3 linked regions of the Homo sapiens genome follow. The protein of the gene in region 1 interacts with the protein of each later gene in a biochemical or structural test. Each region holds a gene or a part of one and is shown on either strand. Other genes may lie near its edges.

Evidence for each region.
Region 2: the proteins of XRCC4 (region 1) and AATF form a complex in vitro, tested with the Homo sapiens proteins (one study listed by BioGRID).
Region 3: the proteins of XRCC4 (region 1) and APLF form a complex in vitro, tested with the Homo sapiens proteins (one study listed by IntAct).

What each region holds. Positions count from the first base shown.
Region 1 is NC_000005.10:83,198,251-83,208,830, forward strand, and holds part of XRCC4 (DNA repair protein XRCC4), read left to right. Parts: intron 1-5,301; coding exon 5,302-5,457; intron 5,458-6,564; coding exon 6,565-6,671; intron 6,672-10,580.
Region 2 is NC_000017.11:37,048,005-37,058,584, forward strand, and holds the end of AATF (protein AATF), read left to right. Parts: intron 1-4,250; exon of another isoform or gene 4,251-5,158; intron 5,159-8,596; coding exon 8,597-8,660; 3' UTR 8,661-8,867; downstream 8,868-10,580. UniProt on the Homo sapiens protein: Part of the small subunit (SSU) processome, first precursor of the small eukaryotic ribosomal subunit.
Region 3 is NC_000002.12:68,510,767-68,521,346, forward strand, and holds part of APLF (aprataxin and PNK-like factor), read left to right. Parts: intron 1-2,313; coding exon 2,314-2,461; intron 2,462-2,781; coding exon 2,782-2,914; intron 2,915-10,580. UniProt on the Homo sapiens protein: Histone chaperone involved in single-strand and double-strand DNA break repair.

The sequences.
Region 1 (10,580 bases):
CTTCTATACTACATATGAAGGGATGGGAGGGTGGTGTTAAAATAGTGGGGAAGGACACAATGTAAGGGATGGGAATTCCCATAGAAGCGATGGTAGATGGGTCTGAGATACATTTACTACCCCATAGGATATTATATGAGAATAAAATAGTTGTGTACACATGTGTTTATTAGCATGGAAAATGTTGATCATATATTAAGGTGAGATGTGCATCACCACAAATATAAACAATATCCCATTGTTTGCAAAAAAATATATTTATATAGAGAGTATCTGGAAGAAGAAAATTAAATGTTAATAGTGTATATCTGGAATTGTAGACTACATTTTCCTTTAATTTTGGGGAGTATTTTTTGTATATGTTTTAGTATTTAAATATGTATCACCATTATAATCAAACAATTATAAAGCTATTTTCATTTGGGATGATGGTGGAGAATAAACACTTGAGTGAGGAATGAGAAATTACAGCATAAGTAAAAAGTGTGAGCTTTAATGCATAGAATTTTAACATATATATTTGCTGTTATTTTTAATTACCACTTAATAATTGTGTTCTTGGCTCCATTTTGAACAAGTGGCATCAGTGGATTAATTTTGTATAGTGTAGATAAAGGAGGAAACATTTAAGATGTGTACGTGAATCCTTAGGTTACTGGCTATATTTATTTCATGGGTTTTCTACTTAATTACAAATAAAAACTCTCAAGTTCCATGTTACTGAATAGGTGTTTTGTTTGCACTCAGACCTCTACTTAGAAATTACCTGCCTTTATTCTGAGTTATAGTTATTAAACCCATAATTGGAGGCAGTTTTCAGGGAATTGGGTTGACACTCACAGAATCATCAAAATAAAAGACCTTGAAAGCTCTTCTACTTCATCTCTCTGCCTTCAAGATACAATCACATTATATCCAGATGAATTCAGTCCGATTTTTAAAGACCTCAAGAGATATCTTCATCTCCTCTTGATAGCCCGTTACAGTGTTTAAGAACTGTCGCAGTCAGAAAATTCTTTCTTCCATCTATGGGTAATCTGAATCCTTCACGGTATAGTTGAAGGCCATTTCCTCTTGTTCTCTTGTCAGAAAGGATGAGGAACAGCTGTTCACCATCTTTTTCCGTACTTAAAGCCTTATTAAATCTCTTTACCACTGCTTGCTTTTCCAGTTCTTTTTAGCTTTCTTTGTCTTCCCAACTCTATTCAGACTTTCTTTTGACATACAACCCTGACCTGGGCCAGATATAATTTTGGCCAGAACTGATTATTAATTTAAGGATTACTGCACTGTGTCTAAATACCATATGTTCACATTTATATATCTATTATTTTATTTTGAGCTATCATTTAATCTGTTGTTTCATTTTTGGTGTTATTTCTGCATGAAATTGTTGTGTTTTTCCTCCTAGTTTGTTATTGTTTTGACATGTTATTCTTAGATTGTTTTCCCACCCAGAGACATTTTATTTTGAATATTCAGTATTTTTTTGTATTTTTTTATCCTTTTAATTTTTTAAAAAAAATTACTATTTTTTTGTCCAAGGTTTTAGATACCTCAGTGCTAGGTTGCTAATTAAATTTAGCATTATTGTTCTGTTTTCCTAGTTATTGTAGAAAGGATGAAGTATCATTAGACCTTTCTTGTTTGATGTTATTTGTGATTTCGTCCCAATTTGAGATTTGCCTGGATTTGATCCTTGGACTAGTGTGGTCTGATCTAGTTGTACATGGGCTTTTTGTTAGTGTCACCAGACTTAGCAGTGAATCCCATGTCTCTTCTCCACTAAATGTTCTCACCTAACAGTTCCTGTCCAATTTCTTGAGGCATAAGCTTGACAGGAAGCACGTAATGGAATGCATAGTAACATCATAATGCTCTAGGAGAGGATTGGCATTAAAAATTAGGTGGGAATGATACGACATACCTCTTAGTTACTGATTATTGGATAAAAGGATAGCATTCTCTGAGTCTTGAAAAATTAAAAGTTAAGAGTAAATTCATGTCATGCAACTGTTCACACTAATACTTTTTCTCCAGTCAGCTCCCGCTCCCCCACTTTTCTAGGAAGTGTTGTCCAGTTTGATGATCAGAAGTTTGGTTGCAAAAAAATCCTAAAGCTTTGCTGAAACCAAGCAAGGTTAACTCACATGATACCATTCATTCTATTGACTGTGTTTTCCTGTCACAGAAATGTTTCCTTTGACAACATAGATCTGATACTGGTTACTTAAGATTAACAATATTCTTTAGGAATATTATATGATATTTCATTTTCATATTTATTTTCACTTTGAATGTGTCATACCAAATGTTAATTTTAATAAAGGTTTGGGAATTAGCTTGTTAGTTGTTAAGTACACATCATCATTCAATCAAGAATTATTGAAGTGACTTATATGGAAATTAAATATGGACTTAAACCAGATAAATTACTAATTGGTTACCATTCCTAAAATTTAATATAAGAAATTGTAATATATTTGTTTATATGTTTTCACATATTGGTTTTTACTTTGCATATGTTTGAAGTATGTTATTATATACTCAGGTATTTCAGTAATATGTATGTTTTAAAGTTTTTTGTTGTGTTTTTTTGAAAATATTATAGGAAGATAAGAATATCATGCTTACGTAACACTGAATCTGAAATATAAATGTAGTGACATGTCTTTGCTTAAAATAAACTATCAATATTGCTAGCTCCTTTTCAATATTCAGTTTTTTTCTAACATCTTTCGTGTACTTCTTTCTCAGAGAACTTTGCTTAATGAAGGGAATACTGTTAGATTGATATTATTTGCCACAGTTTTTTTAAAAGCTGAAGATGAAAAACATTACTTTTACAATGGTGAATAGCTATTAAATGAGGGAAAAAATACAATATTCGGAATCACTGTTTTTCTGTTTCCTTATAAGATGTCAATATTAGCCATTCTCCTTGGCTCTTCTTCTTTGCTGGAGGGCTATAGTCAGCCATGGTGCCCAGCAGGAATGGCATAATCCTGAAGCCCCACTTTTGTAAGTACTGGCAGTGGCCTATAGCAATATGGTTCACCCAGCCTGCAAGGAAGAGCCACAGACATGGGACTGGGCAAGCCCACTGCATTGCCCGGTGCCTTGTATCTGGACCCACTGGCCCCTAGTAAAATGCCCCACATGAGGTTTCACACCAAGTACAAGCTGGTAGGGGCTTCAGCTTGGAAGAATTAAGGGTGGCCAGCATCCACAAGAAGATGGCCTGGACCATTGATTTCTCTATTGATCCAAGGAGGTGAGACAAGTCTACTGAGTCCCTGCAGGCCAATGTATAACAGCTGTAGGAGTACTGCTGGAAGCTTATCCTCCTTCTCTAGAAACCTCAGCCTCCGAGAAGAGAGACAGCTACACTGAAGAACTCAAATTGGCCATCACACTGACAGGACCGGTAATGTTCATATGAAATACCTATACGAAGGAGAAAGCCAGAGTCATCACCAAGGAGGAAGAGAACTTCAAGACTGCCACGTCAGGCCAGGTGCGGTGGCTCACGCCTGTAATCCCAGAACTTTGGGAGGCTGAGGCAGATGGATCACGAGCTCAGGAGTTCGAGACCAGTCTGACCAACATGGTGAAACCCTGTCTCTACTAAAAGTACAAAAATTAGCCAGGCATGGTGGCAGGTGCCTGTAATCTCAGCTACTCGGGAGGCTGAGGCAGGCGAATCGCTTGAAACCAGAAGGCAGAGGTTGTAGTGAGTGGAGATCGTGCCACTGCCCTCCAGCCTGGGCAACAACAGCGAAAGTCTGTCTCAAAAAAAAAAAAAACAAAAAACCTGCCATATCAATGCCTGGCTCTTTGGCCTCTGGGCAAAAAGGACCAAGGAAGCTGCAGAACAGGATATTGAAAAGAAAAACTAAAGCACTGTTGAGGCCTTGTAATAACTCTGCAGAAAAGCTGGGAAAACGAATAAACCACTGGGAAAATAAATAAACCAAAAAGATGTCCATATTAATTTATTCACTTTATTCGTTTGTCTAATAAGAACCTACCAAACATCTGTCGAATGCTAAACACTATGCTGGGCACTGAGGATACAGTGGCCAATAAAACACACATGCTGTCTGCTTTCGTGGAGTTCACATCTTTGGCAAAGACTGTGCTGTAAGAATTTGCTGAAATTGGTCCCAGAGAATATATTGCCATATTTTCCTTTTTATCCTATGATACGTTCTAATTCTTTGCATCTCTAGATAGGTAGATTGTTGAAAGTTTAAGGGCATGTATATAAAAGCTATCTAATTTGGACATTTGTGTTTCTAATTTCACTGAAATATATATGTGTGTGTCTATATATGTACACACACATATATATTACTACTGGTATATATGTGTGTGTGTGTTTATGTACAGTATAAAAATACTAGGATACCTGTAAAACAACAACAATGTAAATAAGCAGTATGAAACAACATTGAAAAGAATACATAAAATAATTTGTATTTGAATCAATAAAATAGGAATGTATTCATCATGTATGTGTATGCATATATTAAGTATATACAACCTCAGCTATTTTGCTTTCTTTATATATCTCTTGGGAGCTTAAAATAAATACAATCCCTTGTTAGCTCATTTGAGCAGTATGGGATGAATTAAAAACAATAGAGAATTTTGTATGTTTTGTCTTACGTATCTAAATTTGAAGATATGTAGTGTTTTACATTTGCTGTTTTATTAATCTCTCCTTGAATATATCAAGTAGAATACTTTCATTGGGTATGTGTATTGCATTTCTATATGTATTTGTGTGTGTGTGTGTGTGGTGCTCGCTTATAAGAATATAACTGGATAAGTCGTGTTCTTGTTGTGGAGCAGTTTGTTGTCTAGTAGATAAATCAGACAAATTAGCTATGTTGCCTTATCACAAAATAAGATTGTAGTTGCTTTTATAGTAATATTAACATAGTACTGAGGAAACAGGCTACATTTACTCTTGTTTGAAATTTATCCCATAAAAACATTCTTTTGTAAATAAACCATATGTATCAATAAATTATCTTTAGGCATTTTGATTTTCTAAAGGCTTATTTGTATCAGTTTTCAATTTTGATCCTTATCTCAGTAAATAAATTACATTAATAACCAATAATTTCTAATTGTGTATTTAACCATCTTTATAAAACTTCCAAGTCAGTGAAAGCATATGTGAAAATAATCTTTAATTGTATTTTCCTTGAAATCTTCTTGATTATTAGGCTGAATTATGTTAATGCTAAGCAGAACTGCATGACTAATTTGTTTACTTATTTACTTTTTTAGATTTGAAAAATGTGTGAGTGCTAAGGAAGCTTTGGAGACTGATCTTTATAAGCGGTTTATTCTGGTGTTGAATGAGAAGAAAACAAAAATCAGAAGTTTGCATAATAAATTATTAAATGCAGCTCAAGAACGAGAAAAGGACATCAAACAAGAAGGGTATTTTCGCTATCTTGTTTTTGGATGACAGATGAATACATTTAAGTGGAATTTCTTCCCAAAGTTAATGAACATTAGATGCCAACTTTTTGATCATATGAGATAATTTGGTAGTCTGGATGTGGATGTTCAGGCTGTTAGATAGGGGTACCATGGGCTAGAGAGTTCTCAGCATGGTCTCTCTATGTCTGCTCAACTGTGTCACCTACACTTAAATTAAAAAACTGACATGAGGCTTATTAAAGTATTATTTAATTCTTAGACATTAGTAAGACATACTAATTTAAAAAAAAACTTTCATCTGCAGAACTACAAAAGTTGGATGCATATTTGTAATCTTGATGTCTAGGCAATGATTAACTTTAGAATCAAGTGGTTAATATTAAATTCCAGGGAGCACTTATTTTATCTGATTAGAGTGTGATTATCAGTTTTATTCTTCTTTCACATATTCTCTGAAAGTACATATGTACTTGATTTTTATGGAAGAATCCTAAGTGACAAATGGCTGATACGGCTTTCGACGATTATAACTTTTTTACGCATTAGCAAATACAAGTTAGGGTCTGTTGCTTTGAATCTTAGTAGAAGTACAGAATTACCAGTGACGTAGTATAAAAAAATTTGATATCAGCTAGTCCTAGCACAGGTACTGGTCTTGCAGTCATACCTATTAGTTTATAGCTTTGGACAAGTCACTTTATCTTCATAATAAAGGTAAAGATACCCATCTTAGGGTTTTGCAGAGATCAAATGAAATGCGAACTGTTCTGAGATTAGTAAAATGTTAAATACTCTGTGACTCACAGAGATAATTTGTTAGAAAAAGTATTTTGATGGAAGAATAGTACCTGATAAGAAACTGATTTAATATTAATTATAATAAGTACTAAATTCAGATTAAAATTAGGTAAAAGAGAAACTTGTTCTTAAGAGAGTTAATATATAGGTTTTAAGATGCTTTCATCTAAATCATATATATTTTCAATATGTTTGTCTAATTAGAATCTTTTTCTAGGAATATTTTCTATAATTGCTTACTGATAAATCTGCTGCCTAGCAGGGGGTGAGCCAGTTATTTATAATTCTACCTTTCTCTGTTTCTAGGGAAACTGCAATCTGTTCTGAAATGACTGCTGACCGAGATCCAGTCTATGATGAGAGTACTGATGAGGAAAGTGAAAACCAAACTGATCTCTCTGGGTTGGCTTCAGGTAAGAGATACATACATTTATCTCCTCTGTTGAATATCTTATTTGGGCTTCTTATTCTAATGACAAGAAACCATAATGGAAAAATGTTGTGAAAGACCTTATTCTATGAAAATTCTTTAGCATTTTTATTTTAAAAACTCAAATTTTTAATGTTAAAACTTAATATTATTTGTAAAATGCAGCAACTCATTAGCACAGCAGTGTGAGCAAGCATTCATACACATATACTCCAAGGTATACTATTCCTGGTTAAATATAACCAGGAAAAGCATAAGCAATGAGGAAGAAACACCTTTATGCTAAATATCATCAGCTTAAAGCTGGTTGCCTTTAACATTTGAGATCTTATTTAGCTAAAGCCATGAATAGGCCACTGGAGCAGAGTAATCAAGAATGCTCTAAATTATACTGAAGTTGAGGCCTTCTTTCACTCTTCAGAAAAAAGATTGCAACAAGTGAGATGTAATAGAGGAAAAGAGAAGGGGAAAAATGGCAGTTTAGTACAAAGTACCTATGACTTACTCAGTCCTTTGGATCAAGTTCCCAGCAAGTGTTTAAACCCATGAGTTATTTTTTAAAATGTTTTATAGATTTCCTAGTGACGGTGGAAACAGGAGCCTCTGAACTCATTTTATACTTAGATGGTTTTGACCTAAAACCAATACTATTAAAATAAATGCTTGATTTATTTATTTAGAAAATATTTTTGAGTTCCTATTATGTACTAGAAACTTTGCTATGCATTAGACAGCAAAACACAAAAATCTGTGCCATTGTGGAGTTTAAATTGTAGTCAGGGAAACATATAAGATGAATAAATATAAAATATGTTAGGTTGATAAGTGCTAAAGAGAAAAATAAACCAGAGAAGGCGTTAGAAAGGTCAGGGTGAGAATAAGGATGAGGGTTATGATTTTAGCCAGACTATCAGAAAAGGCCTCAGTGAGAAGGTGAAGGTGACATGCTGTCTTGGGGAAGACCATGCCAAACAGAAAACAAAAACAAAAACAAAAACAAAAAAACACTAAGTACAAAGTTCCTGACGCGTTTAAGCAATACTATAGAGTGTAATCTGGATAAAGTAGAAAGATGAAGACTGGGAGAATTAGGAAATGAGATGAGAGAGATGATGGGACCTCATCACGTGTAGGGCGATATAGGCTACCATTAGAACTTCTCCTGTTACTTTGAATTAACTTGGAAACTACTGAAGGATTTTAAACAGTCAGGTGACATAATCTGACTCAAATTTCAAGAGGATTAGTCTGTGTATTGTGTTAAGAATAGACTATAGGATGACAAATGCAGAAGAAGATATAACAGATGGGAAGCTAGTACAACAATTCGGTGAAGGATGAGGCTGGCTTAGACCAGAGTGATGGAGAGGCGATGAGCAAGGAGCAGATTCTAGGTGTGCTTAGAGGCAGCAGGATTTGCTGATGAAGGGGTTATGACTGAGCAAATAAGACTGAGAAGGAGCAGCCAGGAGGTAAGAGGCAAAAATATAAATGTGGTATCCTGCTGATTGATGGATTTAGCAATACAAACGTTATTAAGGATCTTAATAGAACATATTCACTGGATTGGTGAAGGAAGGGGATAGGAGAGAATAGGAGTTTCAAAGGGAATGGGAGGAGAGAACTGGAGATGAGACAGGCAATACTTTCAACAAATTTCACTGTAAAAAATGGGAAAGACATGGGGCGGCAGCTGGAGGAGGAAGTAGGATAAAGAAAAGTATTTTTGTTTGTTGTTTTTAAATAAAAGAAAGAATATGTTTGTATACTGATGAGAGTAACTAAAGAGAGCAGGTAAAACCATCAAGGCAGTAGACAGAGGAAAAACTACTGGAAATCTGTCTCTAAAAATATAAGTGGATGGGATCCAAGGGACAAGTAGTAGATTAGTTTAGCCAGGAGCATAGTCACTCCCCATAATGACAGGAGAAAAGGTAGAATAAACAGATGAAGGCACAGGAAAGTATCTAACTGCAGTCACAGAAACTTATTAACATTGATTAAACTGGTTGATTCATCTGATTCTAATCAGATTTGAATTGGATTACACAATACACACACAATCATACTTTTGCACTTGGGAATGAAATTTCTTTTCACTTGGCAGTTATGCTTGTTTTACCCTAGTGTCCCATTTAAAATGAAATTATTATTTAATAATCAAATAGAGAAAAACTTACAAAGATAATTTGTACTCTTTCCAGTTTAAACTTTCAGAATTTTTATTAAATACAATGACCTTTGGTCTTGTTTCTTAGTCAGAGTATCTTACCAATATTTGAAGTAGGTGAAAATTATTGATGAGAAAATACGTGGTTAAATATGGCTATATGAGAAAGAGGACTTTTATGTGTTCAGTCTATTTTAAGTAAAACTTTAAGCTACAATTGTACTATTTTCAATTTGGCAAAATTCTCCTTTCTCTTCAGAAATGTTTAGTTTATTTCATGTTCTTTCTCTATTTTACGTGTCTTTATTTCTTTAGCCCACATCTAGTTCATTACACATATGATCTATAGGTCTCTGTTTTTATTTTTTATTTTTGCATTTAACTTGCTTTTAGTAAGTTTTCGATGTCAAGAATTAATAGCATAATAGAACTTTACCCTTTTTCTTCTGCTGCAAAAAGAAATGTTTAGGAAACAGATGCTGACTGAAATAGAAAAATAAATCTCATCTCAAATGCTTGACACTGAATCAAGAACTAGATTTCATAGATCTGAGAAAGAAAATTGTAGATGTTAAACAACAAAATGGGCCACCCTATAATTTACCAGTTTCCACAATTAATTCTTCTACAGAGACAAAATATGTTTTTAGTCCATGAGAGATAATTCTGTTGAACACAGCTTTCTCTTTTTGGTACTCTATGTAGTATTACTATGTTTTTTGAGGCAGAGCAGTGAGAATTTCTTCCTGATCTTATTCTGCCATCTTGATAATAAATTACTTGCTCTTTGAATACAAATAAATTTGTGAATTTATTTTAGATATTGCAATTTCCTGTGTGCTTTTCCTACAATAAAAACAAGAAAAAGAGAATCTGATGGGGATTAATACATTTATTCAGACTTTCAGAAAGCTGTCTTTAAGTGGCTGAATATATAATTTGGTAGTTATTTTGTTATAGTAAATGGATTTTTATCATTAATTATTAAAATGCCCAAATTTCATCTGGAGTTGTTCACATTATTACCCAATTTCTTGATGATAAAATAGAGGTTTAGTGAGATCAGGATCATTTAGTAATACGAAGATGAATATGTTAATCTGAATCTGAGTATGGTAAATTTGAATTGGATTACACAATAGGCATACAATCATACTTTTGTAAATGGGAATGAAATTTCTTTTCATTTGGTAGTTATGCTTGTTTTTACCTTACTGTCCCATTTAAATGAAATTATTCTTTAATAATCAAATGTAGAAATATTCACAAAGATGGTATGGTAATTCATTCACAAATATGAAATGGCAAATTCATATTTACCGTATTCACTCTAGGGAAAAGTCTGGTTACTTTTATGCATATATCCAGAAGTAGAGTAGGGGTATTACAATTTGAAGGAAATTGTTAAGTTACATTTTTATGAATACGCAATCAATTTATGGCTTTTTTTCCTCTAAATTTTCATATTTTCCCACTGCCATTAGGATTACTGAGGAAATAACTAATGATAATGTAGATCAGTCTAATAAACCACATCATGCTCATATGTACTGTATGATGTAGCATGAAAAACCTCAAAAAATACTCATTTTCTTGGCTAAAAGGAAATCCCCAAAGTATTCTGAAACTTGAATATCACAGTCAATATCACCGCATACTACATTTTATATTTTTCCATAGCAAGATTTACTTTTACTATGTCTTGGATTTTAGAATTTCCAG
Region 2 (10,580 bases), on another chromosome or scaffold:
TAAGTCTTAGCTGAAAGAAGACTGCTTTCTTTCCCCTTTACCTCCTTTCTTCTGCTTTGTGGTTTTTTTATGGGGGTTTTTGTTGTTGTTCAGTTTTGGTTTGTTTTTTGGTATGGAATTATGATGAGATTTCAGGAGAGAAGCCTGTGATCCTCCTTGGGTTGTTGGGGGATGTTAAGAGGAGAGTGAGGGAGAGTAAGTACCGACTTTTTGGCCGTATTCAGAAATCCTAAGTTTTCTACTATAGTGATTTTTGTGTCATTCTGACTAAATACTAACTCCTTATCAGCACTGTGTCTTTTTACTTGGATTACTTTCCCAGCAATCCAGCCTTCTTGGGGAGCTAAGTTTTTCTTTTCTTTTTTTTTTTTTTTTTTTTTTTTTTAGATGGAGTCTCACTCTTTTGCCCAGGCTGGAGTGCAATGGCACAATCTCGGCTCACTGCAACCTCCGCCTCCCAGGTTCAAGTGATTTTCCCGGCTCAGCCTCCCAAGTACCTGGGATTACAGGCACACACCACCACGCCCAGCTATTTTTTGTATTTTTAGTAGAGACGAGGTTTCTCCATGTTGGCCATGCTGGTCTCAAACCCCTAACCTCAGGTGATCCGCCCACCTTGGCCTCCCAAAGTTCTGGGATTACAGGTGTGAGCCACTGCGCCCAGCCTTGAGGAGCTAAGTTCTAATGCATGTCACCTGTGTCTGAGCCCATTCCCGTGACATACATAGGGCTGCCCCTACCACACAGCCCCAAAGAGCACAGGGCGATTGCCTGCCATTTGGATCAGTATGTTTCTCCTTTTAGGTCATAGAGACACTTCTCAAATATCTTTCTCTCATTTGTAAAGTCACTGATACCGAGTAGGATGAATTTGGGTCGGGGAAAGCAAAGGAATGATGAAAGGAGGGTGCCATTTAGTCCCTCGTGTTGGTTGGGAGCAACTGTAATGCATGCACACAGGTCCTCAGCATGTTGCTCTGTCTCATTCCATTTCTCATGATCATAGATGACGATGCCATTTATGCAATGCGGACTTTGCTTAGTGCTGTAAAAACAGTATGTTTAAGGAAGATATTGTCACCATCTTACTGATGAGGAAGCTAAGATTCAGGGGGCTAAGTAATTTACCTAAGGTCCTAGACCCAGTAAGGACCTGAGCCAGTCAGAACCAACTCTGACAGCACCTTCCAGCCCCTCTGCATTTGTGATACCATGCTCTATGCCATATAAAAGCATTCGCCTTGTTCTATTTAACTATTCAAGATTTCTATTAAGCTGGTTTCTCTAAGTATATAAGAAAAGAAAGCTGCTGTCCAAGCCGGGCGCGGTGGCTCACGCCTGTAATCCCAGCACTTTGGGAGGCCGAGGCGGGCAGATCACGAGGTCAGGAGATCGAGACCATCCTGGCTAACACAGTGAAACCCTGTGTGTACTAAAAATACAAAAAAAAGTTAGCCAGGCGTGGTGGCGGGCACCTGTAGTCCCAGGTACTCGGGAAGCTGAGGCAGGAGAATGGCGTGAACCTGGGAGGCGGAGCTTGCAGCAAGCCGAGATGGCGCCACTGCACTCCAGCCTGGGTGACAGAGCGAGACTCCGTCTCAAAAAAAAAAAAAAAAAGGGAAAGCTGCTGTCCTGTGGTCTGTAGACATTTTTAAGAGGAAAATGGAGGAGTGAGTAGCCTTTGCCCTTTGGCCTACTTTGGTTTCTGGCAATCAGAATGGAGGCACGTGCTTTATTGGAGAAGGATCCCTTTGTTTGGTGCCGTTAGCATGTGCCAAGTGATAATTGGCAAGACATCTTTTTCCGCAGACATTTGGGAGGCCCTGGGCATACTGATAGATAGAACAGAAGAGAGTGGAGGCCTTGGGAAGACAGAGAGAGAAGTATGTGTTCAGAGTGCAGGAGAGATGGAGTCCTGCTCCACCTGCTTTGGGCTCACGAGGGCTGCGGGTTCTGGAGACCTTGCTTTTGGAGCTTTGGCAAATGGAGGGCTCATAGGAGTGCAGTCAGGATGGCAAGCAGACTCGGTCACAGGAGGAATGGAGGCAACTGAGGCCGCTGAACCCGGAAAAGAACAGATTTAGTTAGAAGAAGACATCAAATAGTTGAAGTGCTGCCACAGGGAATAGTAGTCAGCCTTACTTCTCTCTGGCTTTAGAGGGACAAGAGCCCATGGCTGTAAGTCCTAAAATGACAGAATTGGGTTCAGCAGGAGGAAGAATGTTTGTGTGTCTCCCCAAATGGAGTGGTTTGTCTGAGACACACTTACTGCATGTATTCACCTTCCCGATCTAGCTTCTGCTGTGCCTTTCATGTCTTTGTGAACCTCCACAAAATCTAACAAAGTTCAAATAAGCATTCAAATATTTTTAATTAATTGATTATACCTGTAGTATGTTAGGTTTTGAGGCCAGGAATCATATACATCTAGTACATGTTTAAGCTTCCACCACACTAAGCAAATTGTTTTCAAAGACAAACGTGAAAAAAGGCAGCATCAGTACATCACCAATAATTTTAAAAGCACACATCTGTCATTGGTGACCGCGCTGGTCTGTGCAGAGCAGGCGTGTGTGTGAATCTCTGTGCTGACTGACCATATCTGGGCAGACTCTACTTGTAGGGTTTCAGATCGGATCCAGACCCTGCTAGCCGTGAGTGCTGCTATGATTGGAACCCTTTGTCCGACTTGCCTGCCGTGTGCTTTCTTCTTTTCCCTTGATTCTGCAATGTATGTATGGGATTGAGTTAAGGCAGAAGCAAATGCTACAGCACTTTTGTGTGCAGTGTGGGAGAGGTAGAGGATTAGAAAGGAAGGAAGGGCCATGACATTCTGGGATGTGTCTTATGTATTTAGGGAGACCCCCCACTCCTAAGAAGCAACAAATGAACAATTTTTAATTAGTCAAAGGCAAATTATGTGTATCATTTTATGTATTTATTTATTTTTAATAGAGACAGGGTCTCACTGTGTTGCTCAGGCTGGTCTCAAACTCCTGGGCTCAAGTGGTCTTCCCACCTCAACCTCCCAAAGTGCTGGGATTACATGAGCCACCATACCTGGCCTATGAGTCACTTTTCGTCTGGAAAGCAGCAGCATTGTCTCCGCCAGCTCCTTTGGAAGACTGGCACATAATACTTGCTCGGAGACCATGATGCGCTTTGGGAGGCTGCACAGGCTTTTTCGGGGAGCAGTGGAATGGCTGTGTTCTCTCTGCTGTCCACCTGTCTTTGTGGGTAGGTACAGCTCAGGGATGTCTTGGAGGCCTGGGGGTTCCAGGGCCAGTGTAGGAGGAGTGTGGTTTTCTGTAGAGTGGATGGTACAATTCCTTCAGAATCCCCAGTGCTGCAAGCTACTGACCTAGCAAATTGAAAGCCCCACACAGATTATTTGCAGGTTTAATATGCTCCTTTGTACTGTTTGCCCAAGTGACATCGTGAAAGACAGTGATCTGTATTGTGGTGGGGTGAGTGCACATGTGGAACTGAAAGGAACATATTTGGGTCCACACATCGGTGAGGGGCTGCATTCTCATACACATACACCCCCATTTCACTCAGAGCTTTTAAAACCTTACCTGCCACTCAAGTGATTGCAGTTCACAGCTAGCTACAATGTGCATACTTTAAGTCTCTTCAGAAGAATCACATAATAAATAAGCCGAATCCTAAGACAGACAGACAGACAGACAGACACACACACACACACACACACACACACACACGCACATTCTGTCTTTATGGAAAATGGCGGCTAATCCATGATCATTTTTTTTTCTAGAAACAGGTTTTAAGATAATATAGTAAAAATATTAAATTAGAAAATGCCTCACTAAGGGTTATAAAACCTTACTGCACTAGAGATAGGTAATTATCCCCTCTACAGCTTAATGACAGTTTAAAAGAAATAAAAATGTTAGTGCTCATTACTTGCTTTTGTAGTTTGCAATAAAGGGTAAGTTAAATTTTAATTCAAGGAAGAGCCCCTGCTATCGACCTTCTACCTCAGGTCCAAGTCCTGTTAATTACTCCGCAGGCTGCTCCCCTGCATGATACCAGCATGAACGCATTGTCTACAGTGGACACTCCCACTGACCATGAGTGTGTGTGTGCTGGGGGGTGGGGGTATTACAGATCAGTGATTTGCATCTTGATTCTTAATGTGATGGGGAGCAGGAATTATGTGTTTTTTTAAAAAGTTGATTATGCATAGCCTTAAGGGGACCTCAGGTATGAAACTACACACTTACCCTGGAGAATCTGATGGAACAAGGTTAACCTGGAGGATTGATAGTTTAGCTTCTCCACATGGCTAAATCCCAGTTAGGAAGATGCAGCCGGGGGGAAATGTTTATGCAGTGGAAGGCGGTCTGGCCCTCTGTCCAGTGGCACCTTTTTGTAGCCTCGTCTTTACTTGCAGTTTTTCTTGGGATGGGGTAAGGGCTGTGGACATGTTTTGTTTCTTTTCAGATGTCTTTGCCTTTCCCTAAGCACCTAGACACCTGCCTAGGTTTGAGGGAGGAAGAGCTCAGTGCACCCTGTGGCTCAGTCTTCACACTGGGGTATGCAGAGACTTTCCAAGGGGAAGGTAGACACAGATAGTCAAGGAGTCAGTCTTCAGACGTACGCTCTTTCCTAAAGCTGTCTGCCCCAGAGCAGGCCTGTGCTGGAGGGCTAGGTTGTCCTTTTACCCTCGTCCTTCTCTGGCCTTGAAAAGCCTCCCTCGAGCCCCTCCTTAAAGTGACATGGACCTCGGGCTGCCACAGGAAAACCTCCAGGGCCTCAAACCCAAGGACAGCTGGAAATATGGGTACAGAGATTGAGAAAGCAAACGCCTAAGGACTAGAGGACAAGCCCTGTGCAGGCCGGGTGGTTTCTGGGTCTTCACTTCCAGCAGAATCGCTGGAGAACACGAGTTGAATTGAGTTGGCAGTTGGTTGACCGTTAGGACTAATGTTTGGGGACGAGTCACTGTGCGATTTTTTGTGTGTGCTGTATAATTCAGAAAGAGCAAAAAGAATCAAGTGGCATTGCTATGCCAGAACTCTGTCATTCCTATCTGCTTGTTTATATGACAACATTTCTCAGTGCTTATGTCTACAAAAAACAAAAAAATAGGAGTAGAATTGATGCTGAACCCTCCTTCATTCTGGCAATAAATAATATTCCTCCATGGATCCATGAACAAATGGAGGGAAAAGCCTCATCCATATCATTAAGGGATGCATTTCTAATAACATTTTACACATGTATGAATACTAAATTTTCACTAAAATTAGGATATATTATATCATATTATTATATATTGATTATATCCTAATAATAATCCAGAGGAACATTTTTAAACTACTTAGAGCCTTATAATGTCAAACAATTAAAATATTTTCATTTCAATTTTTTGAATTTTAAAAATTTCAAAAGTGCTTTTATTTACAGACTAATGTGGCCAAGAAGTATGATAAGGGTGATTGATAAAAGACATTCAAGCATGAAACCATTATATTAGGACAAAACTCTGTAGGGAAAAGTCAGGTGGAAATAAAATTTAAAAAGAAAAAGGTGCTATAAAATGTCCAAGTTAAAAAGTTTATGTGTGGCCCACGCCTGTAATCCCAGCACTTTGGGAGGCCAAGACGGGCAGATCATGAGGTCAAGAGATGGAGACCATCCTGGCCAACATGGTAAAACCCCGTCTCTACTAAAAATAAAAAATTAGCCGGGCGTGGTGGTGCGCACCTGCAGTCCCAATTACTTGGAAGGCTGAGGCAGGAGAATCGATTGAACCCGGGAGGCGGAGGTTGCAGTGAGCCGAGATTGCGCCACTGCACTCCAGCCTGGCGACAGAGCGAGACTCCATCTCAAAAAAAAATAGTTTATGTGTTACTTGAATGAACGATGAGTATCAAATCATTATGGCATGTAGGTTCCATTGCAGGCATTACAAAAGTTAATTTTCACAACATCCTGGTCATTATATATTTTGTAACTATTTAAACTTACTGTGAAAAACGTTATAAAAATGTGCAACCCTACCTTCTCCAACCTAGTAAAGAGGGAGGAAGGGCTGTGCCTCCCTGTACCACCCAGCTGCTCAGGGCAGGAGCCAAAGCCAGGACCTGGAAAGAGGAAGGGCTGAGGCCAAGCTGAACCGCTGGAATCTACAGTGGGGGTGGCTGGTGGGGGGCGTGTGGGGCGGGGATCTTCATCCCCATGCTGCTCCTGGGCCCCAGGGAGGGTCTGCTTTGTCTGTCTCAGAGAAGGGAGTGGAAGAGTCAGCCAGGAGGTTGTTGCTGTGTGCTTCATGAGAAACGGTGAGATCTGACCTAGTGGAAGCCTGGAGGAGCTGTGAAGTTTGAGATGCTTTGAAGGTAAAAACGGTCACCAGCTGGTGATAGTGGGTGAGGAAGATGTAAAAGTTGAAATTGCTTGGGGACTTTTAGATTGAAATAATCCCCTATTGATATTCTCTCTCTCTGAAAATATTTTAAGAACCCAGACCACTCAGCTTCCCAGGTTGCTTTGCCATGAACAGCTGCATATGTTTGTCAGCTTTGCCCACCTGAGTGTGAAATGATGTTCTATGAAAACATGGGTTTCAGCATTTCACTCTCTGCTCCTGACACGTGAACCCTGCTGCGGACAGTAACTGCTGCCTTCGGCCCAGGCGTTGCACTGATATTGCGCGCAGAGTGGAAGCATTTGCTCAGTGGTAATGATGGGGTCTGGTGCAGGCAAGCGCGGCGAGGCTGGAAAGGGTATGATGTGAAGGGCTAGCCTCGCGCCTCTGCATTTCTTTCTCATCAGACGTTGTTGTCCTAAAGTCACACTGTCCTTTTGTTATGGCAACTCTCCCTTTCACGCCATTTAATTTTTTGTGTGGAAACAGCTAGAGAGACTTGTCTTTACTGGCAAATAGGCAGGCCATGGTGTGATGAAGTGGAGCCTGCCCTGGGCACCGAAGTATCCGTGTGACGGAGCTGCTGATTTGGAAGCCGTGGGTTTGCATTTGGTCTGGGGCTGCCGTCCACCTTGGCAGGCTTCGTCTGGGCTGATTGAGGCTAGTCACATGGATGTGTGTAACAGAAGAGCAGAAGAGATGGGTGGAGCCAAGGGGGAAGCTGTGTCCTTTGTCTGTGGCCTAGGGGTCTGCTGGGTAGTTCAGGGTGAAGGCACCAGCACATTCTTGGGATAAAATTCCTGTAATAAAATTGGAGGCCTGTTGTTTTCTGGCCTGCACTTTCACTGCCTGTCCCTCCCGCGGTCCCCAACATGATAAGGCTAGCTTACATTTGTGGCTTCTGTAGTTCTTCCTTAAGATGTTTTTCTTTTGACTTTTTTAAAGCTTTGATACTCTATTCCTTTTGTTGGATTTCCTAATTGTAGTACCTTTATTCCTATCCATAACTATAGTAGGGTGACTTCAAAAAAAGACCAGTAGTTTTTTGTGTTGAAGCCTTGCTGTTTGAAAGGTGGGGTTTTTTGGTTTTGCTTTTAAAGTCTGATGTGCCGATGCTGACCCTCAGATGATGAGAGCACTTTTAAAACAAGACGGCAGGCTGGAATTTGAGTTCCATCTTGAGAATATCCGAGCAGGTGTAGATTTCTTCTGGGGCTCCTGGCCCATGACCTCAGCCCTGTGTGCGCCTGCCCTGTCTCTGTGAGGGCTACCGGCTGGGCCTTCTGCAGGGCGTGGACATGGATGGCTGCCTCTGCGGCCACGTGCTACACGCCCACCTCCCTGATGACAGGGACGTCCTCACACGGGTCTTGCCTGCTTGGAACCTCATGGGTCCCTCATGTCTCTGCAGGGAGGATCTGCTCTGTATCCACAGGGGAAAGTGTTCTGGAGCTTCTGTCTCAACGATAGGAAAGATCCCTGCCCCACCCACACCCCTTTTAGGTTTTCCAGGCCTTGACACATGGCTTTGGCCGATGTTTGTGTGTATGTTGCATTTAAAAGAGTTTGAAAGTGGTCATTTACTTTTCTTTTTAGGGGCCCAAGACCCTGGCATGTTATTGTTTTAATGTCAAAACCCAACTTTAGAAATAAATTAGCCAATCATATTATTTATTAGACTGAGAATAGAGACAGGGCAGCTGGGGAGTGTGGAAGAAGCTTGGTTCTCTTCCTGAACAACTGCACAGATGATAGTAATTGGAATCGTGTTGCTGGCTCATTTTCATTGTTTTTCAAGTACTGCCAAGTCCAAGAAAATGTATGAAAACTAAATTATATCCCCCTACATCCCATGTCTGATTGAATCCTCCTCATCGGATGGCGGTCTCCTACATCCTATTAAAATATTCAATCTTGTTTTCTTACTTGAAGAGCCTGTCTGCAAAGGGCAAACTTACAGAACACTCATTCCCTGGAGACGGGTGTCCAGCCGCACTGGACCATTTACATATTTTACTGTTTGATTGGGTTTCTTCCTTCTGTTGTATTTGTGAGTAAGAGCTGTGGGGTGCATTTTTAATTACATGGCTGTGTTTTCAACAGAAGAAACAGAATGGGGTATTTTCCAGCTTCTGCGTTCCTTTTTAACCTTGAATAGTGAACCAGTGTGTTAACCAGTTTGCTGTGTTTGTCTTTTAGGACAGAACTGTACCGCTCTCTTTTTGGCCAGCTCCACCCTCCCGACGAAGGCCACGGGGATTGACATCGCCCACCTCCGACACCCAGTGGGCGCCTTGGCTGGTGCGGCTGCTGGTCCAGATGGAGGAAACCAGTGACTTTATGGGGCTGAGCTAGTAGGGAAGCCCCTGGAAAGATGCTGCGTTCCGAACCTGTGCCTAATACACGCAAGGGCGCTGTCCCGCCCAACCCCGCCTTTAAACGCCACAAATAAAGAGCATTGTTACCGCCACCACCGCTTGTGATTTCTTAAGAGGCTGAGAGTCAGTCTGGTTTGGTTCTAGTGGATGACACATTTACTGAGCTTTTTTTTTTCTAGTCCAGTGGCCTCCTCATACAATGTCAGACTTGACGTTTCCTTGACCCACTCACCCTGGCGGACATGTAGATTGTTTGCATAGCGTGGCTGTTGTGGGTGAAATGAACGTGGGAGTGCAGGTGTCCCTTCAACACAGTAATGTCCGTTGATCTGTATATATACCCAGAAATGGGATTGCTTGATCGTAGGATAGTTGAATTTTTAGTTTTTTTAGTAACTCCTTACAGTTTTCCATAATGGCTGTACCAGTCCACGTTCACCCCGGCAGCGTGCCAGAGCTCCCTTTTCCGCGTCTTTACCAACACTTGTTAACTTTCATCTTTTTTAAAAAAAGTTTTTATTGCCATATAATAGTTGTATACATTTTAGGGGTTCATCTTTTTGATAGTAGCCATTATAACAGGTCTGAGGTGATGTCTCATTGTGGTTTTTTTTTTCTTTTATCTTTTTTTTTTTTTTTTTTTTTTTTTGAGACTGAGTCTTGCTCTGTCTCCCGAGCTGCAGTGTAGCGGCACAATCTCGGCTCACTGCAACCTCCACCTCCCAGGTTCAAGCAATTCTCCTGCCTCAGCCTCCTGAGTAGCTGGGATTACAGGTGCTCGCCACCATGCCCAGCTAATTTTTGTATTTTTAGTAGAGACGGGGTTTCACCATATTGGCCAGGCTGGTCTTGAACTGCTGACCTTGTGATCTGCCCACCTCGTACTCCCAAAATGCTGGGAATACAGGCATGAGCCACCACGCCCGGCCTCGTTGTGGTTTTTCTGTGCATTTCCCTAATGATTAGTGGGGCTGATAATTTTTTAATAAGCCTGTTGGCCATTTGTATGTCTTCTTTTGAGAAATATCTGTTCAGATTCTTTGCCCATTTTTGAAATGGGTTATTTGTTTTCTTGCTTTTGGGTTTCTTACATGGATAAGGGGTATTCAGCCTTAGAAAGAAGGAAATTCTGACACTCGCGACAATGTGGTTGAACTGGAAGACATTATGCCGAGTGAAATGACTCAAGCACAGAAGGACAGAGACCCCCTGATCTCAATTATACGTGGAATCTACAAAAGGCCAACTCATGGAACTAAAGAGTAGAATGGTGGTTACCGGAGGCTGAGGGGGGTGGGGGAGCAGGGAATGCGACATGTTGGTCAAAGACTACAGTTTCACGTCAGAGGAAGTATTTGTTTATGTATGTATTTATTTATTTATTTATTTATTTAGAGATGGAGTGCAGTGGCACAATCTTGGCTCACTGCAACCTCCGCCTCCCAGATTCAAGCAGTTCTTCTGACTCAGCCTCCCAAGTAGCTGGGATTACAGGCCCCTGCCAACACGCCCAGCTGATTTTTTTTTTTTTTTTTAGTAGAGATGGGGTTTCACCATATTGCCCAGGCTAGCTTCGAACTCCTGACCTCAAGTGATCCGCCCACCTCGGTCTCCCAAAGTGCTGGGATTACAGGCTTGACCCACCGTTCCCAGCCAGAGGAGGAAGTTTTGAGATCTGTTATACAGCAGGGTGACTATAGTCAATAATGTATTTTTCAGAGTAACTCAGTAAATTTCAAATGTTTCACCATAAAAAATGATAAGTGAGGTGATGGATACATGGACAGGCTTGATTTAATCGTTCT
Region 3 (10,580 bases), on another chromosome or scaffold:
TAACTCAGCTGTCCAGCAACTGTTGAATAGATAAACAAGTATTGTATAGTCATACAGTAGAATATTATTTGGCCATAAAGAGGAATGAAATATTTACATATGCTACAACACAGGTGAATCTTGAAACATTATGCTAAGTAAAAAAGCTAGACACGAAAGACCACATACTGTATTTCATTTATATGAAATATGTAGAAAATGTGATCTTTGGAGACAGAAGGTAGATTAATGGTTGCGAGGAGCAGGAGGAAGAGGCAATAGGAAGAGATTGCTAATGCATATGGAATTTCTTTTTGAGGTGTTGAATATGTTCTAAAATTAGATATTGGTGATAGTTGCACAACTCTGTTAACATACTAATAACCACTGGATAGTACACTTTAACAGGATGAATCTTATGACTATATGGATTATTTTTCAATAAAGCAGTTATAAAAAAGGATAACTCAATTACCTTTACTAGACTACATTTAACTTTCCAAGTTTTAATTTTTTATTTAAAATATTCTGTAGTGATGCTTTATAAATCCTGTGATAGTTGATTACTCATAGATGTATTTGAAGATAAAATAAAAATATATATCACAGTGACAGTGTTTTATATTTAAATAAATGTGTAGTAGAATAATTTGTACTTGTACTTTTTGAATAAAATGTTAAATAGAATTTTGTTCTGAAATTTTTTTTGTTACGTTTATTGTGGGTAACTATTAATAAAAATTACATATGGACTATAGAGTGTATATGAATTCATCTCAGACTTATGCCACAATAGAAAATAAACTAGAAATGGAATTGATGATGTTACTTAATTCCTAATACTATAAATTGTGAAAAATCATCAAACTACTATTGAATGTTTCTTAATATTTTTCATGTTAAATATTAAGAAAACTTGAAAAAAATTATAATTTGGAAGTACACCTGTAACCTGTGAGTAAAACAGGACTGGGTATTGTAGTGGAGTGAACTTTCATAGCTAGGACAATCAGACATTTCCAAGATATGTCTCCAGCACCTGGCACAGTGTTTGACACACAGTAGAAGTTTTAAAAATATTGATTGAATGAACAAAAAATGTGATGCTGCATAGTAATTTACTCTAAGTAAATTTTCTCTTTTGGCTGATTCTTGCCATTGACATTGAAGGCTGCCTTTGAAGGAGATTATTCCCTGTATAAGAAATACTAAAACGAACAAATAAAACAAGCGGTTAATTAGACTTTTCTCAGCTAGACACACTTCTAAAATCTTATATCTTTAGTTTTTAAAAATTCACATTTAATGAGGACAATTTACACACAGTAGAGTTCATCCCTTTTAAATGTGCAATTCAATGCACTAAAAATGATAATATAGTCATTTAAAATACTACTAGAGTGAGATATAGAACATTTCCATTTCCCCAAATGTTCTCTCCTGGCTCTTTGTAGTCTGTCCCTTCACTCCACCCCCAATCCCTGGCAACCATTAATATGATTTCTGTCCCTGTAACTTTACCTTTCAGGATGTCATATAAATGGAGTAATACAATATACCTTTTGTGTCTGGCTTCTTTCACTTAGCAAAATGCCTTTGGGATTCATCTATATTCTTGCACACATCAGTAGTTCATTCCTTGTTATTTCTGAGTAGTGTTTCATCTATAGTTTCAAATTTTCGAAAAGACAAATTCGTTGGATCATGTCTATGCATACATAAGTATTAATAACCCAACAACTTTGGATGACCTTACTGCATATTGCAGAAGTATGAGGTAATTGGTTCTGCTGGCATGTCCCACATGTGACCATGGATGTTCCTGTTCCAGAACATTTAGCTTGCAGCTATACTACAAGTTTGGGGATATTTCATAAGTAGCTCTTTAATACTTCCCTGAACTTCAGTAGCAGTTATGTGTCAACTTAAACTCAGGATTTTATTTATTTTTTCTCCAAACGTCTAACTAGCTTAGCTGATGCCCTTGCAGTTTACATTATCTCTCTAGAGGCTGGGTGGTGATCTTAATTTCTGTGGACCATCTGGACAAATATTAAATAAAGAGCTCTTAAGCCTTGACAGAAATGGCTGCCACACATCTCAAAAATAATTGTGGTTTCTAGGCCCATGATTTGGAAAGATTGATGTATTTTATGGCAATACAGCAGGTAGGAAATAAAGAACATATTCTAGTCTATATATTCTAGTATACTATAATCTGCTTTTTTTGGTTTTGCTAAGTCTGAGTAAAGGGACATAACTTAGATGTAGTTCTAAGGCAGCAGAAGTGTGTTAAATTTAAAATTAAAGACCAGTTTCTATTTTATCTTATAGAAACAGTCAAGTGCTTGATGAAGATAATATATTGAATGAAACACCAAAATCCCCCGTGATTAATTTACCTCATGAGACTACTGGTGCCTCACAACTGGAAGGAAGCACAGAAATAGCCAAGACCCAGATGACTCCCACAAATAGTGTGGTGAGAAATTTGATATCTCATCCATTTATAACATGTTCTTCAAGTTATTATGAAGGCAGAAAAGACAACTGAAATTAGGCCTATTATGACAATATTGCCAGCATTTATCTACTTTTGCTGATTTTAAGTTAAGCTCTAGAGAATATGGCAGTAATCCAACAGTTAAACTAATAGAAATAATTTCTTTGTTCAAGAAATTTTATGAACTCAGTCTACAGTTGCATATGGGTATTTTAATGGTAGTATTCTGCAAAGCAGATATTTTGCAAATTCATTCAAGATGTGTGATTATTTTTAGTAATTTATAGGTGTCTTTTTAGTCTTTCCTAGGTGAAAATAGAGACTGCAATAAGCAGCAGCCAATCCTTGCCGAGAGGAAAAGAATCCTTCCAACTTGGATGTTAGCAGAACATTTAAGTGATCAAAACCTTTCAGTACCAGCAATCAGTGGAGGTAGGTTTTTGTTTCTACTAATGCTGACTTTAAAGGAAACATTAAACAGAATTTGAAAGCTTTTCTGAAGAAAAACTATAAACTAGTTCTATAGAGATAGAGTAGAGGTTGTGTAAGTGTATAGCCTAGCCTAGTTTTTTTAGTTGTGAACATGAAGTCTAAAACATAGGCTATTACTTTATGCCATTTATCAAATACCACCCTAATTTTTTTTCATTTAACAAGTGCTATTATGTGCTAGAATTATATTAATAAAGACTTCCAAACAAACCTCTTGGTGCTATGTCTAGGATAAAAGGCCAGCACAATAAGAGGGTTTAATTTGATTTTTAAAAATGCCAGACGAATTGATATACTTTCAAGTTTACTGATTCTTTTTTCTGCCATCTCTAATTTGCTGTTAAGTCTATCTAGTGAATTATTCATTTTAGTTATTGTACTTTTCAGTTCTGGAATTCCTCTTTGGTTCTTTTGTGTAAGTTTATGTTTCTCCGATGAGATTCCCCATTTATTCAATCATTTGGTGTATTTTTCTATAAGTCTTTGATCATATTTATAATAGCTGCGTTAAAGTCTGCATCTACGTACAACTTTGCCATTTCAGACTTAGTTTTTATTGACTGCTTGTTTTCTTTTATGGGGTCACATTTTCCTGTGTATTCTGTGCCTAGTGATTTTCTATTGATACTGGATATTATGGATGATACATTGTAGAGGCTCTTGATTTTGTTATGTTCCTCTGAAGAAGTATTTTTGTTCTGATAGCAATTAATTTGGCTGGATTCAGAGCCTACCCTGTTTCCCCTGTTATGTATGGCAGCTGCAGTGTCTAGGTAGTTCCTTCACTTTCCAGCTGCTGCGTTTTTCTCTGGGTCCTTGGGCCCCATACAAATGTAGTTTAGGAGTCAGCCAAGAATTTGGGTCAAGTTTTTATGTAGGTTTTTGCTCTTGCCCCTTCTGTGGCTGCCTTCCCTCCAGGATTTTATCACTCACCTCTGCCTGTTCTCCTAGCCTCAAACTCTCTGCTCTGACCATTTAAACCAGTAAGGTTGCAGCTTTCTGCCACGTGTGACTTGGAGAAGGCCTTCAGGAAAAAAGTCACAAGTTCACAAACTTTATAGATTATAGTTAATTTTCAACCTTGACACTTCTCCAACTCTGCCTCTTTGGTCAATCTCCAGTGCCTACAGATAGTTTGAAAAATATTTTTTTCCTGAATTTACAATGATTTTATTGGCAGTAATTACTTTAGTTATGCTGTTTTTCCATTTTACCTTGAACATTGTTTTTTAAAAATTAACAGCACAAATGAATACACATTTTAGTTAGAAAATTACTACTCAGTGCTTTGTGTATTCTGCACAGTGGTCATAGAAGTCTTCTAAAGTTTTGGATCACATATATTATGTACAGAATATATCTTATTTAATGGTAGTTTGGATTATACTAGGATCAAAGTGTTCTCATGGGAAAAGTGCACTATACTTTATGTGTTAAGGGGCATGTGGTTTAATCTGGAGAATTTTCCAATCTAAGCCTAAGACTTTTGCAGTAAGTTATTCTACTACAGTTGTTTTCAGTTCTTCCCACCCCCACAGTTACTTCATGTGTAATATATATATATATATATAGGCAATAACATCTGTGTATGTGTTGATCCTCAATTTGTAGGAAGGAAATGGGGAATTGTAGTGGGGAGGGGCAGACACTTTCCCTCAGTAGAATAATTTCTCTGATAAAAGAAAGACTTAACTTGACCAAAAATTGGACCAATGTGAGCTGGTCCCTGCAAACAACTCCTTTTCTTTCAGAATTGTTTTGTACTGCAACTGCTTCTGTGCTACTGCTTATAATAATAGTTCAACATGTATTTCATTTCAAATACGTTTTCTTTCCCTTGGTAGATGTCCCACATAAAATATGAAGCACGTTTTTGGGCACTTCTCTTTGAAAATACGAATGAGAGTAATTTGACATTGGTCTGGAATATCGCATGTGTACAATGTACTTAAAATGCTAAAGCTTCAAAATAAGATAGAAGAGTCTTTGGATTCAGGTAATCTTTTTATAAACTAAGACCGTGGGAGAAGTACTTTATAAGAACAAGATTAGGTTACTTAATTCCTTTAAAGACAGTTTAGTACTTTAGAACAGTTTAGTACCTGAATCCTGCTAATTAAAAGTTAAAACAATTAGACTTATTCTGTGGTGCTGTTATTTTTTAAAAAATTGTTTTGTTTGTTTAAGTAATAAATGATGGGGATCAATAGGCCAATATGAGAGATTTTTAAAAATTAATTCGCAGGATGCATTTTGGTTTATTCAGACATGAGTAACTTTCATATGTCTTTTGCAGCTTTAGGACCATAACTGTGGTTATTGGTCTTTATGTAGATTATCTGAAACTAACTTGATATTTTGGAACCTTTGGAATCCTTAGGAACAGGACAAATAACATGAATTCATGTTATTTGACTTATCCAAGATCATATAATAAATGCCAGAGCTGTAACTGAGACCTAGCTCTGACTAACTTTAAAGCCCATGTACTAAGGCATATCACTGTATAGCTGCCTAAATTTACTCTTTATATGTTTGGTTTTTGTTTGCCTTTTTTGATCTGCCCTTGCGATCTCTCCTGGATCATCTCTCAGTTTAACTCTTTAATCCTTTATATGTAGGGGAATTTTTGCTGTTGTCAGGCTTTTTCATTTTTCAGCCAATACAGTTTATTATTATTATTATCATCACTATTATATATATATTTTTTATTTCAACAGGTTTTTGTGAAACAGGTGGTGTTTGGTTACATGGATAAGTTATTTAGTGATGATTTCTGAGATTTTGGTGCACCCATTACCCGAGCAGTGTACACTGTACCCAGTTTGTAATCTTTTATCCCTCACTCCCCGACCCTTCCTCCCAAGCCCTCAAAGTCTGTGGCATCATTCTCATGCCTTTGCATCCTTATACCTTAGCTCCCACTTATAAATGAGAAAATACAATGTTTGGTTTTTCATTCCTGAGTTACTTTACTTAGAATAATGCTCTCCAATTACATCCAGGTTGCTGCGAGTGCCATTATTTCATTCCTTTTTATGGCTGAGTAGTATTCCATGGTGTATTTGTATATATATAGAGAGAACAAATCTGGAGGCATCACGTTTTATATATATAATATATATAATTATATATAATGTTATATATAATATAATAATATATTATATATCCTATATAACATTATATATAATATATAATATAATATATATAATATAATATATAATAATATAATATAATATAATTATATATAATAATATATGTTAATATATAATATATAATAATATATTAATATATAATATATAATAACATGTTATTAATATATAACATGTTAATATATAATATGTTATTAATATATAATATACTAATATATAATAATACGTTATTGATCTATAACATATTAATATATGTTATTGATATATAATATATCAATATATAATAATGTTATTGATACATAATATATTAATATATGTTATTGATATATATAAATATATTAATATATGTCATTACTATATAATATATTAATATATGTCATTACTATATAATATATTAATATATGTCATTACTATATAATATATTAATATATGTCATTACTATATAATATATTAATATATCATTACTATATAATATATTCATATAGTAATATATGTTATTACTATATATTAATATATCTATATATTACTATATATTAATATATCTATATATGTTATTACTATATATTAATATATCAATGTTATTACTATATATTAATATATCAATATGTTATCACTATATATTAATATATCAATATATGTTATTAACATATGTCAATATATGTTAATAACATATAACAATATATCACTAATATATGTAATTAACATGTAACAGTATATCACTAATGTTATTAACATGTAACAATATATCACTAATATATGTTATTAACGTAACAATAATATATCACTAATATGTTATTAACATGTAACAATAATATATCACTAATATATGTTAATATATAACTAATATATCACTAATATCTACTGTTAATATATAACAGTAATATATCACTAATATAATGTTAATATATAACAGTAATATATCACTAATATGTGTTAATATATAGCAGTAATATATCACTAATATGTGTTAATATATAGCAGTAATATATCACTAATATGTGTTAATATATAGCAGTATTATATCACTAATATGTGTTAATATATAACCGTAATATATCACTAATATGTGTTAATATATAACAGTAATATATCACTAATATGTGTTAATATATAACAGTAATATATCACTAATATATAATAATATATAACAGTAATATATCATTAATATATAATATATCATTAGTATATAATATTAATATATATTAATATATAATATATCATATACAATATTAATATATATTAATATATAATAATATATTATTAATGTATAATAGTAATATAATATATTATCAATATATATTACTAATATATAATAATATATCGTTAATATATAATAGATCATTAATATATAATGTTAATATATTATGAATAGATAATATATCAGTATATAATATTAATATATTAATATATTATATATTATTTAATAATATATAATATATTAATAAATAATTATATATTAATATAGCAATATATTAATATATGACTGTATTATATTATTAATATATAACAATATATTATATATTATATAATAATTTATTATATAATATATAATAATATATTATATATTATATAACATATTAATAATACATAATAACATTAATAATATATAATAATGTTAATATATTATTATATTATATATTAATATATAATAATATATCAATAATGTATCATGAATATATAATATATCAATAATATATCATGAATATATAATATATCATTAATATATCATGAATATATAATAATATATCATTAATATATCATGAATATATAATAAATCAATATATCATGAATATATATCATTAATATATCATGAATATACAATAATATATCATTAATATATCATGAATATATCATTAATATATAATAAAATATTAATAATATATCATTATATAATAAAATATTAATAATCTATCATATAATAAAATATTAGTAATATATCATTAATATGTAATAAAATACTAATATTATGTCATTAATATGTAATAAAATATTAATATTATATCATTAATATATAATAAAATAATAATATATCATTAATATTAATATATTATATAATATTATTAATAATACATAATAATATGCTATTAATATACAATATCTGATAATATATTATTAATATATAATAATATATAATATATGATTAATATATAATAATATAATATATAATTAATATATAATAATAATATAATATATAATTAATATATAATAATATAATATATAATATATAAAACATATAATTTGACATTTTATATATATATAAAGACTTGACCAAAAATTGGACCAATGTGACTATATATTTATAATATATAAATATATATTATCTATATTTATTACATAATATATTATATATTATATATCATTTATATATAATATAATATATTATATGTATATTGTATATATAAAATGTCAAATTACTCTCATTTGTATTTTCAAAGTGAAGTGCCCAAAAACATGATTCATATTTTAAGTGGTACATCTACCAAGTGAAAGAAAATGTATTTGAAATGAAATACATGTTGAACTATTATAAGCAGTAGCAAAGAAGCAGTTGCAGTACAAAACAATTCTGAAAGAAAAGGAGTTATTTGCAGGGACCAGTTCACATTGGTTCAATTTTTGGTCAAGTTAAGTCTTTCTTTTATCAGAGAAATTATTCTACTGAGGGAAAGTGTCTGCCCCTCCCCACTACGATTCCCCATTTCCTTCCTGCAAATTGAGGATCAACACATACAGAGATGTTATTGACAAAAAAAAATTACACATGAAGTAATATATATAAATATATGTATATATATATATATTAGTTTCTTTATCTACTCATTGACTGATGGGCATTTGGGCTGGTTCCATGTTTTTGCAATTGCGAATTGTGCTGCTATAAACATGTATGTGTAGGTGTCTTTTTCATGTAATGACTTCTTTTCTTCTGGGTAGTCAGCCAGTAGTGGGTTGCTAGATCAAATGGTAGATCTACTTTTAGTTGTTTAAGGAATCTCCACACGGTTTTCTGTAGTGGTTGTTCTATTTTACATTCCCACCAGCAGTGTAAAAGTGTTCCCTTTTCACCACATCCACACCAACATCTATTATGTTTTTGATTTTTAAATTATGGCCATTCTTGCAAGAGTAAGGTGATAATGCACTGTGGTTTTGATTTACATTTCCCTAATAATCAGTGATGTTGATCATTTTTTCATATGTTTGTTGTCCATTTGTATATCTTCTTGTGAGAATTGTTTATTCATGTCCTTAGCCCACTTTTTGATGGGATTATTTGCTTTTTTCTTGCTGATTTGTTTTTTCTTGTAGATTCTGGATATTAGTCCTTTGTCAGATGCATAGTTTGCGAAGATTTTCTCCCACTCTGTGAGTTGTCTGTTTACTCTGCTGATTATTTCTTTTGCGTGCAGAAGCTTTTTAGTTTAATTAAGTCCCATCTATTTATCTTTGTTTTTATTGCATTTGCTTTTGGGTTCTTGGTCATGAAGTCTTTTCCTAAGCCAATTTCTAGAAGGGTTTTTCTGATGTTATCTTCTAGAATTTTTATGGTTTCAGGTCTTAGATTTAAGTCTTTAATCCATACTGAGTTGATTTTTGTATAAGGTGAGAGATGAGGATCCAGTTTCATTCTTTTACATGTGGCTTGCAAATTATCCCAGCACCATTTGTTGAATAGGGTGTCCTTTCCCTACTTTATATTTCTGTTTGCTGTGTCAAAGCTCAGTTGGCTGTAAGTATTTGGCTTTATTTCTGGGTTCTCTATTCTGTTGGTCTATGTGCCTGTTTTTATACCAGTACCATGCTATTTTGCTGGCCGTAGCCTTGTAGTACAGTTTGAAGTCGGGTAATGTGATGCCTCCGGATTTGTTTCTTTTGCTTAGTATTGCTTTGGCTAGACTTGTTTTGGGCTGTCTTTTGGTTTCATATGAATTTTGGGATTGTTTTTTCTAGTCCTGTGAAGAATGATGGTGGTATTTTGATGAGAATTTCATTGAATTTGTAGATTACTTTTGGCAGTATGTTCATTTTCACAATGTTGATTCTACCGATCCATAAGCATGTGATATGTTCCCATTTGTTTGTGTCATCTATGATTTCTTTCAGCAGTGTTTTGTACTTTTCCTTGTAGAGGTCTTTTACCTCCTTGGTTAGGTATATTCCTGTTTTGTTTTTTGTTTTTGTTTTGTTTGTTTGTTTTTTTGCAGCTATTGTAAAGGGTTGAGTTCTTGATTTGATTCTCAGCTTGGTAACTGTTGGTGTATAGCAGTACTACAGATTTGTGTACTCTGGTTTTGTGTCCTGAAACTTTGCTGAGTTCATTTATCAGTTCTAGGAGTTGTTTGGATGCATCTCTTGGGTTTTCTAGGTATATGATTATATCGTTGGCAAATGGTGACAGTTTGACTCAGTGACAGTTTGACTCATTGACTCTTTACTGATTTGGATGCCCTTTA